2 separate regions of the Homo sapiens genome follow, and region 1 is linked to region 2. Evidence: fine-mapped QTL for protein levels in blood plasma. A gene starts in region 2. The other region holds a variant in brackets. All regions are shown on one strand. Distances are between the middles of the regions. Region 1 has its middle 36 kb from the start of CD38. Region 2 holds the start of BST1 (bone marrow stromal cell antigen 1).

Region 1 (5,373 bases), 40 kb before region 2:
GATTTTCAAATTTAGATAATTTTTGTAATGGCTGTTTTTAACAAGTGGCTTGCAACAAAATTCATGAAAATTGAACAATCAGCCCTCCTGAGTGGGTATAGGCCAGCTCCAGCACTCCTCTGCCCCTAAGCCTCACGATTACAGTGTCCATCTTATGATATTGGCCAAAGGGAGAAAGTCTTGGAAGTGCTGCTTATTGTTGAACTTTCTTTTGGAATGTGATATGGTTTGTCTGTGTCTCCACCCAAAATCTCATCTTAAATTGTAATCCCCATAATCCCATGTGTCAAGGAAGAGACACCAGGTGGAGGTGATTGGATTATGGGGGCGGTTTCCCCCATGCTGTTCTCCTGATGGTGAGTGAGTTCTCACAAGATCTGATGGTTTTATAAGTGTTTGGTAGTTCCTCCTGTGTCATTCCCTTTCCTGCCACCTTGTGAAGAAGGTGCCTTGCTTCCCCTTTGCCTTCCACCGTGATTTGTAAGTTTCCTGAGGCCTCCCCAACCACGTGGGACCCTGAGTCAATTAAACCTCTTTCCTTTAAAAATTACCCAGTCTCGAGCTGCTCTTTATAGCAGTGTGCCAATGGACTAATACAGAAGGTATGGGAGAAAGCAGGGAAAGGAATCTGTAGGCAGACTGCCATAAAGGAACCACTATTCTTTTCACTTAAATTCAGCTTTCGGTGTAAGTCTTCTTTCTTCCTCATCTGTATACTACACAGAGGCCCAGAAGGTGAAGGGATTAGTCAAATGTCCAGAAAAGGAAAAGATAAGAGGACAAGATCCCATCCCCCAAGGAAAGAAAGACTCTAATGCAGAGGGAGCAGGAGCTGTGATGGAGATAGCCACTGCCTCTCTCACCCTCCATTCCCATCCCTTGGCTCAAGAAAGGCAGATGTAGCAGAGTGGGACAGATGCTGTTTACTGGTCTGACCAGCGTCCCTAATGGAAGGCTCAGACAGAGCCTCCTATCAGTCCTGGCTCCCATCTTCCCTTTCCTGGGAGCTCATGACTCACACCAACAGAAAAGAGTGTCCTGAGCAGGGGAGGCAAAGCCAGGGTAAAAATCTCAGAGTTGGGATACAAGAGGGGCTCAACATGTGAGATTGCTAGGCCATCCAGATAAAACATCCATTAGGGCAGAAGACAGACTGTTTCCCTGCACAGACCACTCTGCCCTTGCCAGAAATAGGAGGGGCAGGAGGAAGAGCTTCCCGCAGAGGCTCCCAGCTGGGCCCTTTGTGCCATCAGCATCTCCCAGATGTTGCCCTCAGCTTCCTTAACATTCTGCTCTAGGTAGGATTTTTTTCTGTTTTAGTTCTTTAATTTTTTTTTCTTCTGCTATTTTCTGACTTTCTAACAGTTTATTGTGAACTGCCTCCTTGGATTGAAGAATAAACATTCTTCATCTTCATACATATATCCTACAGCTTCATACAGATTAGTCTCATCCACCGAAGTCATGATCTCTGCATCTGTAAGATGTGCATGCTTTTTTGTTCTGTTTAGCTGTTTGGTCGGTATGTCTGTAAGCTTCACCTTCTGTTGAGTGTCAAAAACTTTGTCTTGAAGCTCTGTGAAGATCCATGGGGGTTACCATCTTGGTGTCTGAATTTTATTTTAAATGTAAAATTATGCAAGGGAATTTTGATGTTTCCTCTGACATTGTAATTTGTGGAAGTTGGTGCAACAAACTGAAAGTGGGTTCATGATTTTCACATACTTCAAAAAGGTCTGTTTATGCATCCTTTCACTGTACCTTAAAGTATAAGGAAAAATTAATTTCAAAACTGTCCTCCTTGTAAATAAGTGGCTCATCTGAAACTTCATATTAATTTGTTTTCTTTCCATCCCATCTCTGCTGCAGCTGGTGCCAGTTGCCATCTCAGGGCAGGCCCAATGTCCTCCTGGGAGCAGTCCTGAACCCATGACTGACAAGTAGATAAATATCTCAACCTCCTTCTGTCTCAGATACAATCAGTTCGAGGTGCATTCTGCACTGTATGCCTTAGTTCCCCAGCAGGCTTCAACCCCAGTTTCCTTCAGTGATAACAGCCTGATAACACTGTATTGGCTTCCTGCCATCCCTAACTCAATTCCCACTTCTTCATCAGTGTTTCCTGTACCTTCAGGTAGTTTATTACCTCCCAAATGAACTCCCTGGACTTATCCTCTGTCACAGGTCTGCTTCTAAAGAAATTCAAAGTCAGTCAACAACTTTGTCTTTGTCTATTTAGTGTTGCTGTAACAGAATACCTGAGCCTGAGCAGTTTATAAAGAAAAGAGGTTTATTTGGCTTAAAATTCTGGTGGCTGGAAAGTTCAAGATTAGGCATCTGTATCTGGTGAGGGCCTCAGGCTGCTTCGACTCATGGTGGAAGTGGAAGGGGAGCCAAAGTATGCAAAGAGATCACATGGCAGTAGGGGAAGCCAAGGAGGGAGGGAGACAGGTGCCAGGCTCTTTTTAACAGCCAGCTCTCAAGGGAACTAAGACAGTGAGAACTCACACACCCATCCCCAAGGGAGCACAGTAATTAATTCATGAGGGGTTGACCCCCATGACCCAAACACCTCCCAGTAGACCCCACCTCTGAACATTGCCACATTGAGGATCAAATCTCAGCATGAAGTTTGGAGGGACAAACATTCAAACCATAGCAAACTTAATCTGGCTTAAATAATAAAGAGGATTCCTTGATGAGCAAGAGAAGAGACCACCTTCTTCTCCATCTCAAACCCTGAAAAACTGCTTCTGGGCTTGTCACAGCTTTGGCAGCAGAGCTGAGCATGTTAAAATAAAATGGAGTTTTATTTGTTTGTACTGTATGTTGGTGAAGGAGGCAGCAGCAACAGAGACCGGGGCGTTATGCACCAACCATATTATGCATCTGGAGATTCCCAGAGCAGCAACTGGGACAGGGACTACTGAATCCCTCAGACTTTAGGCCATAAGCCAATGAACATTTACTGTAAAAGGTGAGATAATACTTTTCGCTTTGCGGGCCATGCAACCTCTGTTGCCACTGCTCAACTCTGCAATAGCTCAGAAGCGGAATA[G/C]ATAAGCACAAACTAATGAGCATGGCTGAGTTCCAGTAAAACTTTATACACTAAAATTTGAGCTTCATGTAGTTTTCAGACGCCATGAAATAATGTTCTTCTTTTGATTTTTTTCAACCATTTAAAAATGGAAAACCCACGTGTGTCTTTGGGGTTGTACAAAAGCCAGAATGGGCCCCTGCTATGGGCCATTGACACATGCTCTCAATAAGGCTGTGAATTAGAGGTTTCCCTGCACACAATGTTGTAAGCCCCTTGGAGGTTTGGAGATTCCAGCATCTATGACTGATTTTTCATGAAGGTTATTGAGGATGTGAACAGAATGTTTCAGTACTTTCCCCATCCATCTGCCTCAGCTTTCCTCTTCCTACCCTTCCTCCCTTATCAGGAAGCACTTCTATAATAATAGGATTGCTAGGAGCACAGAATTCTCGGGCCATGTTTTACTCCTGGACAAGGTTACTCTACTCCAAGTATGGTGTCCTCCCTGGCCTGTCCACTCTAGCTGTAGACAGGGATGGCCCCTAGAGGGAAGCCTGCCAATCCAGCTGTTACATAATGACAGCTGATCTCCAATCTGTGATTCTACTTGTCTGTAGCAGCCCCGTTTGACAACTTTGTTGGAGGAGGAGTGAGTAACGGCCAAATTCAATCTTTTGTCGCTAGATATAATACCAAAAAAACTGTCACTGCTCTTCCCAAGACTCCTAATCAATATCATCAGTAAATATTGGCTGAGTAAATATATGCAACCTCTGTCACAACTACTCAACTCTGCGGTTCATGACGGATAATGAACCCTGTGGACCCCTCACGAACCACGGAGTTGAGTAGTTGCGACAGAGGTTGCATGGCCAGCAAAGCTAAAAGTATTACTTCACCTTTTACAGAAAATGTTCATTGGCCTATGGCCTAAAATCTGAGGGATTCAGTAGTCCCCGTCCCAGTTGCTGCACTGGGAATCTCCAGACGGATAGTTTGGCTTGTAAATAATGCTCCAGCCTCTGTTGCTGCTCCTTCTTCACCAACATATAAGAAATAAAATTACATTTTATTTTAATATCCTCAGCTCTGCTGTCAAATATTTGTTATAATTTAACAAATTAATAAATTTGTTAAATAAGGTGCAAATGCTGAAGACAAACTCAGTAGTTGAGAACATAAACCTTTGTATAGATTAGTCTCCCTACCTGAAAATATTTCCAATCCACCCCCTCACACCTTCACCTCTCATCTGGCTAATAGCTCTCGTTTTTTCAGGTTCAACTTAAGGAAGACTTTCTCTGGAAAGCCTCCTCTCCCGATACTAGACTATGTTAGGTTTCCCCCAGTGCACAATCCCAAAGGACTCTGTTTCATCTTCATCCCACAAATGAAAGTAGATAATAACTACTAATTTAGGCCCGACATGGTGGCTCATGCCTATAATCCTAGCACTTTGGGAACCCAAGGCGGGCAGATCACTGTGGTTAGAAGTTTGAGACCAGCCTGGTCAACATGGCAAAACCCCGTCTCTAGCAAAAAGAATACAAAAAATTAGCCAGGCATAGTGGCGTGTGCCTGTAGTCCCAGCTGCTAGGGAGGCCGAGGCATGAGAATCACTTGAACCTGGGAGGCAGACGTTGCAGTGAGACGAGACGGTGCCACTGCACTCCAGCCTCGGTGACAGAACGAGATTCAGTCCCCCCTGCCCCCAACTAATTTAGTTATCAGCCAGTGAGGATCAGGAGATACACTCTCTCCCTGTCTCTCTCTATCCTTATCTCTCTCTCTCTCCCTTCTTCCCTCTCTTTCTCTGTCTCTCTCTGTTTCTCTGTCTGTCTGTCTCTCTCTCTGTCAATGTCTCCCTCTCCTTTTCTCTCTCTCACCGACTTCCCTCCCTCCCTTTCTCCTTCCCCCTCCTACCACCAAATTTTATTACTAGCAGCAATGGTGAACAATGACTTCACTCTGATTATATTTCTGTACACATCTTTTTACCCTACAAAATTTAATCGAGTTTAATGTGTTCCCCTGAGAGCTTGTCACTGTATGTTAACTATTTTAAAATTTTACAAGCACCATCTTAGAGTTACTGTGTCACATGTCCTATAGCAAAGTCATGAAGGTGCAGCTGGCACAAGTCAAATGAAAACCCTTCTACTTTTGTGCAGGGGAGAAATACACACACACACACACACACACACACACACACACACACACGGTTTGGCTTCTTAACATGCATTTTTCTCAAATAAGTAAGTCATTTCAGTGAAGAGTTTGGGTAATTCTGACAGCTACCCTTTAATAGCTACATGATAAAAGAAGTTCCAAAG
Region 2 (5,373 bases):
TCAGTCAACTATACAGCAGGTGCCTCTTCATTTAGACCTAACGGTGGGGCCAGTCTCATAGTCCAGTTCCAGTGTGGAGCTCGGGGACCAGGTGAGGCCAGGCCAGCCAGCAGGATGTGTAGTGTTAGGAGGGAGGCCCAATGCTGCAAAAGGCTTCCACCTCTGGCAAAGCAGGTGCACCCTCCAGTGCAAGCCCCTCTTGAGGTCCATGCTAGTTTTCAAAAAATATTTCCCATAGCATTTGTAACTTTGTTTCTCATACTGGGTGGTGTGTAACACAGGTGGTTCTCTGCTGTTTCTTATTTGCCTGAAATGTGCGACAATAAAAATGATCAGCACAAGAAAGACATCACAAACATAAGAAAAGGGGGGCCACAGAAGGAACAAAAATCAGTAAGAAATGCAGCACTGGCAAGAAAGACCCAAACTTCAGAAATCCTCCAGATTTAGGGGATCTGAAATTTGAATTCTGGAAGGACTGGACTCAAGGAATTCCAACCTGAGATCACATTCTGGGTTCTGAGTATTCAGACTAAACATCTGCTGGGTGGCAATGGGCTGTTACCCAGTTCACCTCTACCCCACCCTCACTTCTAGAGGGATACCTCTCCACCCTCCTTCACACTCACACACACCTCTCACCTCTAGACCACACACACATCCCTCACCTCTAGACCACACACACATCCCTCACCTATAGACCACACACACACACCTGTCACCTCTAGACTACACACACACACCCCTCACCTCTAGAACAAACACACACACATCTCACCTCTAGAACACACACACAACTCACCTCTAGAACACACACACACACACATCCCTTACCTCTAGAACACACACACCTCTCACTTCTAGAACACACACACCCATCATCTCTAGAACACACACATCTCACCTCTAGAACACACACCCCTCAACTCCAGAACACACACACACCCCTCACCTCTAGAACACACATACACACCTCATCTCTAGAACACACACTCTCCTCAGCTCTAGAATACACATACACCCCCTCACCTCTAGAACACACACACCCCTCACCTCTAGACCACACACACATCCCTCACCTCTAGACCACACACACATCCCTCACCTATAGACCACACACACACACCTGTCACCTCTAGACTACACACACACACCCCTCACCTCTAGAACACAGATACACACACACCTCTAGAACACATGCACGCACCCCTCACCTCTAGAACACACACACACACATCTCACCTCCAGAACACACACACCCCTCACTTCTAGAACACACACACCCCTCACCTCTAGAATACACACACCCCTCACCTCTAGAGCGCACGCACACACACCCCCTTCACCTCTAGAACACACATGCACACACCCCTCACCTCTAGAACACACATACAGACACCTCACCTCTGGAACACACACACCCCTTACCTCTAGAACACACACACACATCTCACCTTTAGAACACACACACACACCCCTCACCTCTAGAGCACACACACACACACACACCCCCACCTCTAGAGCACACACACACACATCCACCTCTAGAGCACACACACACCTCCCACCTCTAGAGCGCGCGCACACACACACCCCCCTCACCTCTAGAACACACGCACACACCCCTCACCTCTACAGTGTGTGTGTGCGCGCACACACACACACTCATCTCTAGACCCCGCACAGCGCACCCCTCACCTGCAGACACACTTCACAGCCCCCTCCTCACTCGCCCCCATCGTTCAGGACCATCGCTGTCTCCACACTCACCTCTCCCCTCAAGGCCTCTCTCATTGCCCCCTCACCCCGAACTTTAGCGCCAGTTTTCCCCTCCCCAGGCCCTCCCCACCGTTGCCTCTTTCCGGCTCCCCTTCCACCCGGCCGACTGCCTCACCGCTGCTCGGGACTCAGCAGTGCGCGGTACTCGGCGCAGCGGCCCAGGAAGATGTCCCGCAAGTGTGCGCTGGTGCCCTCCCCGCGCCACCGCGCGCGCGCCCCGCCCGCCGCCAGCAGCAACAGTAGAAGCAGAAGCTGCAGCAGCAGCTGGAGCAGCCGCGATGCCGCGCACCCCTGGGCCGCCATCGGGGAACTTTGGTCCCTCCAGTCCCGTGCTTCCTCCACTCCCCTTCTCTCCTTCTACCAAGGCGGTTCCGCAAACTGATGCAGGGCGGGACTCTCGCTCGGATATCTCGCTGTTTGCCGTTTCCCGTTCCAGACAATTTCAAGACTGAGCGTGGGGCGGGGCGCGGCGGCTCATGCCTGTAATCCCAGCACTTTGAGAGGCCTAGACGGGCGGATCGCTTGAGTATAGGAGTTCGAGACAAACCTGAGTAACATACAGGTGAGAAACCTCCTCTCTACAAAAAAATACAAAACTTAGCTGGTCCTGGTGGTGCGCATCTGTAGTCTCAGCTACCTGCGAGGTGAGATGTGAGGAGGCTTGACCCCAGGGGATCGAGGCTGCAGCGAGCAGTGATTGCACCACTGCACTCCAGCCCTGGGCGACAGAGTGAGACTCTGTCTAAAAAAAAAATTAATAAATAAATAAAATTAAAAAAGAGTGAGCTTGGAACATCACCCAGGACAGGACCAGTGCACTGTGGCCCAGGCTAATCTTGACCGCTGTCCACGGGGAGGGAGCCCCAAAGAAGCCGCAAGGTTGAAGGAGAGGTGAGGAGAGGTCAGTCATCATCAGAAGAAATACTTTTCTGGCTCCAAAGGACGACAACTTTGACAGATGCCCTCTTTCACACCAACCAATAAGTGGTGTTTGTTTGTTTTCAGGAAATAATAACCACAACAACGTGCCAAGCACTTTGCAAGTATAATATTAATTACTTTCCGCAACACCCTTCCTAGCTAAGTTTGTAATTTCTCTCGCTTTAGCAATGGATAAACTCAGGGAAGTTAAGCATGTTCGGCCCTCCAGATTTGCGGATTCATCATCCAAATTCAGCTAACCACGGATGAGAAACATTTGAGGAAAAAAAGAATGCTTGCATCTGTACGGAACATGTACGGACTTTTTTTTCCTTGTCATCATTCCCTAAATAATCCAATGTAACAACTACTTATGTAACAATTACATAGTACTTGATATTACAAGGAATCTGGAGATGACGTGAATTATAGAAGAGGATGTGCAAATACTGTATACTACACCATTTAATATAAGGGCCTTGAGCATCTGTGGATTTTGGTATCCAGGAGGTTCCTGGAACCAATTCTCCATGGATACCTACCGCCGACTGTAACTTGTCAGAGGTCACAATATCCCTTCCTGATAGATGCAAAATCCTGGAGATGTTCAGTTTAAGAGAGCCAGGATTGGCCGGGCGCGGTGGCTCACACCTGTAATCCCAGCACTTTGGGAGGCCGAGGCGGGTGGATCACGAGGTCAAGAGATCGAGACCATCCTTGCTAACACGGTGAAACCCCGTCTCTACTAAAAATACAAAAGATTAGCCAGGCGCGGTGGCGGGCGCCTGTTGTCCCAGCTACTCGGGAGGCTGAGGCGGGAAAACGGCGTGAACCCAGGAGGCAGAGCTCGCAGTGAGCCGAGATCGGGCCACTGCACTCCAGTCTGGGCAACAGAGTGAGACTCCGTCTCAAAAAAAAAAAAAAAAAGAGCCAGTATTAATAGAATACCACGTGGAGGCCCAAGTCCTCAATTCTTACAATAATGACAGCAATGAACTTTGAGTGCCTGGCAAGCACTTGATAAACACAAGGGAGGACAGAACAGGTGTTCTCTACTGTTTTATTTGAATCTCTTTTTTTCTGTAACCAAAACCCGCATTCTCCTGTTCAGTTCCTCCTTAAGTTAAATCCACTTTCCAGAGGAAAGCATTTTTAATTCTTTCAAGTTTTGTTCCTGTGTTTACTTCCATATTTCTAAATAACATGTGTGAACCCGCAAATTTTGAGACAGGTCTCAATTAATTTAGAAAGTTTATTTTAGCAAGGTTGAGGACACGTGTCCATGACACAACCTCAGGAAGTCCTGACGACATGTACCCAAGGTGGTCAGGGCACAGCTTGGTTTTATACATTTTAGGGAGACATGAGATATCAATCAATATATGTAAGAAGTACATTGGTTCTGTCCAGAGAGGCGGGGACAACTCGAAGCACGGAGGGGGCTTCCAGGTCTCAGGTAGGTGAGAGACAAATGGTTGCCTTCTTTTGAGTTTCTGATAAGCCTTTCCAAAGAAGGCCATCAGAATATGCATATATCTCAGTGAGCAGCTGAATGACTTTGAATAGAATGGGAGGCAAGTTTGCCCTGAGCAGTTCCCAGCCTGACTTTTCCCTTTAGTTTAGTAATTTTGGGGCATCCCTGGCATGGCTCGTCCCACCAAATCTAATGTGAAATTGTAATCCCCAACGTTGGAGGTGGGGCCTGGTGGGAGGTGATTTTATCATGGGTGTGGGTTTCTCAAGAATAGTCTAGCACCATCCCCTTGTTGCTATTCTCATGATAGTAAGTGAGATCTGGTTGTTTTAAACTGTGTAGCACTGGCAGGGCGCCGTGGCTCACACCTGTAATCACAGCAGTTTGGGAGGCTGGTGTGGGGGGTGTGTTGGGAATCACGGATCGAGACCATCCTGGCCAACATGGTGAAACCCCATCTATACTAAAAATACAAAAATTAGCTGGGCGTGGTGGCACGCACCTGTAGTCCCAGCTCTTCGGGAGGCTGAGGCAGAAGAATCGCTTGAACCTGGGAGGCGGAGGTTGCAGTGAGCTGAGATCTCACCACTGCACTCCAGCCTGGTGACAGAGTGAGACTCTGTCTCAAAAAAAAAAAAAAAAGAAGTGTGTAGCACCTCCTCCCTCTCTCTTGCTCCCTGCTGCCACCGTGTAAGACCCATTGCTCCCCCTTTGCCTTCCACCACATTTGGAAACTTCCTGAAGCCTCTCCAGATGCAGAAGCCACTATGCTTCCTACAGCCTGCAGAACTGTGAGCCAATTCAACCTCTTTTTCTTATAAATGAGCAGTTTCAGGTATCTATAGCAATGCAAGAACAGACTAATACAATACCTATATGCTATTTCTTGATGTTTCTGTTTGGGACATTATTCTGTTTGGGACATTATGACATTTTATTTGTTGTAAACCTCTTGTTTACCCTGGAGGTAATCATTATCTAGAAAGTAACTAGCTTGCTTTTGATATTACAGGCTCATAGGCAGAAGGCATTTGCCTTGTCTCAGATGAAACTTTGAACTGTGGACTTTTGGGCTAATGTTGAAGTTAAGACTTTGAGGGTCTGTTGAGAAGGCATGATTGGTTTTGAAATGTGAGGATGTGAGATTTGGAGGGGCCGGGGTGGAATGATATGGTTTGGCTGTGTCCCCACCCAAATCT

What was found. PIP is the chance, under the fine-mapping model, that this variant and not a neighbour inherited with it causes the effect. Protein levels are from the aptamer-based SomaScan assay of Sun 2018.
Region 1: its variant is fine-mapped to the plasma level of the BST1 protein (Sun 2018, PIP 0.95).

What each region holds. Positions count from the first base shown.
Region 1 is chr4:15,739,442-15,744,814 of GRCh38, reverse strand. It overlaps a transcript of BST1 not described here and the pseudogene PFDN1P2. Among named protein-coding and RNA genes, the nearest start is that of CD38, 36 kb to the left of the region's middle. The variant G/C (reference allele first, on the strand shown) is at 3,059.
Region 2 is chr4:15,699,854-15,705,226 of GRCh38, reverse strand. BST1 (bone marrow stromal cell antigen 1) reads right to left here and starts at 2,162. Exons shown (of 9, transcript NM_004334.3): 1 at 1,895-2,162. The coding sequence starts at 2,082. RefSeq lists a silencer at 2,144-2,223.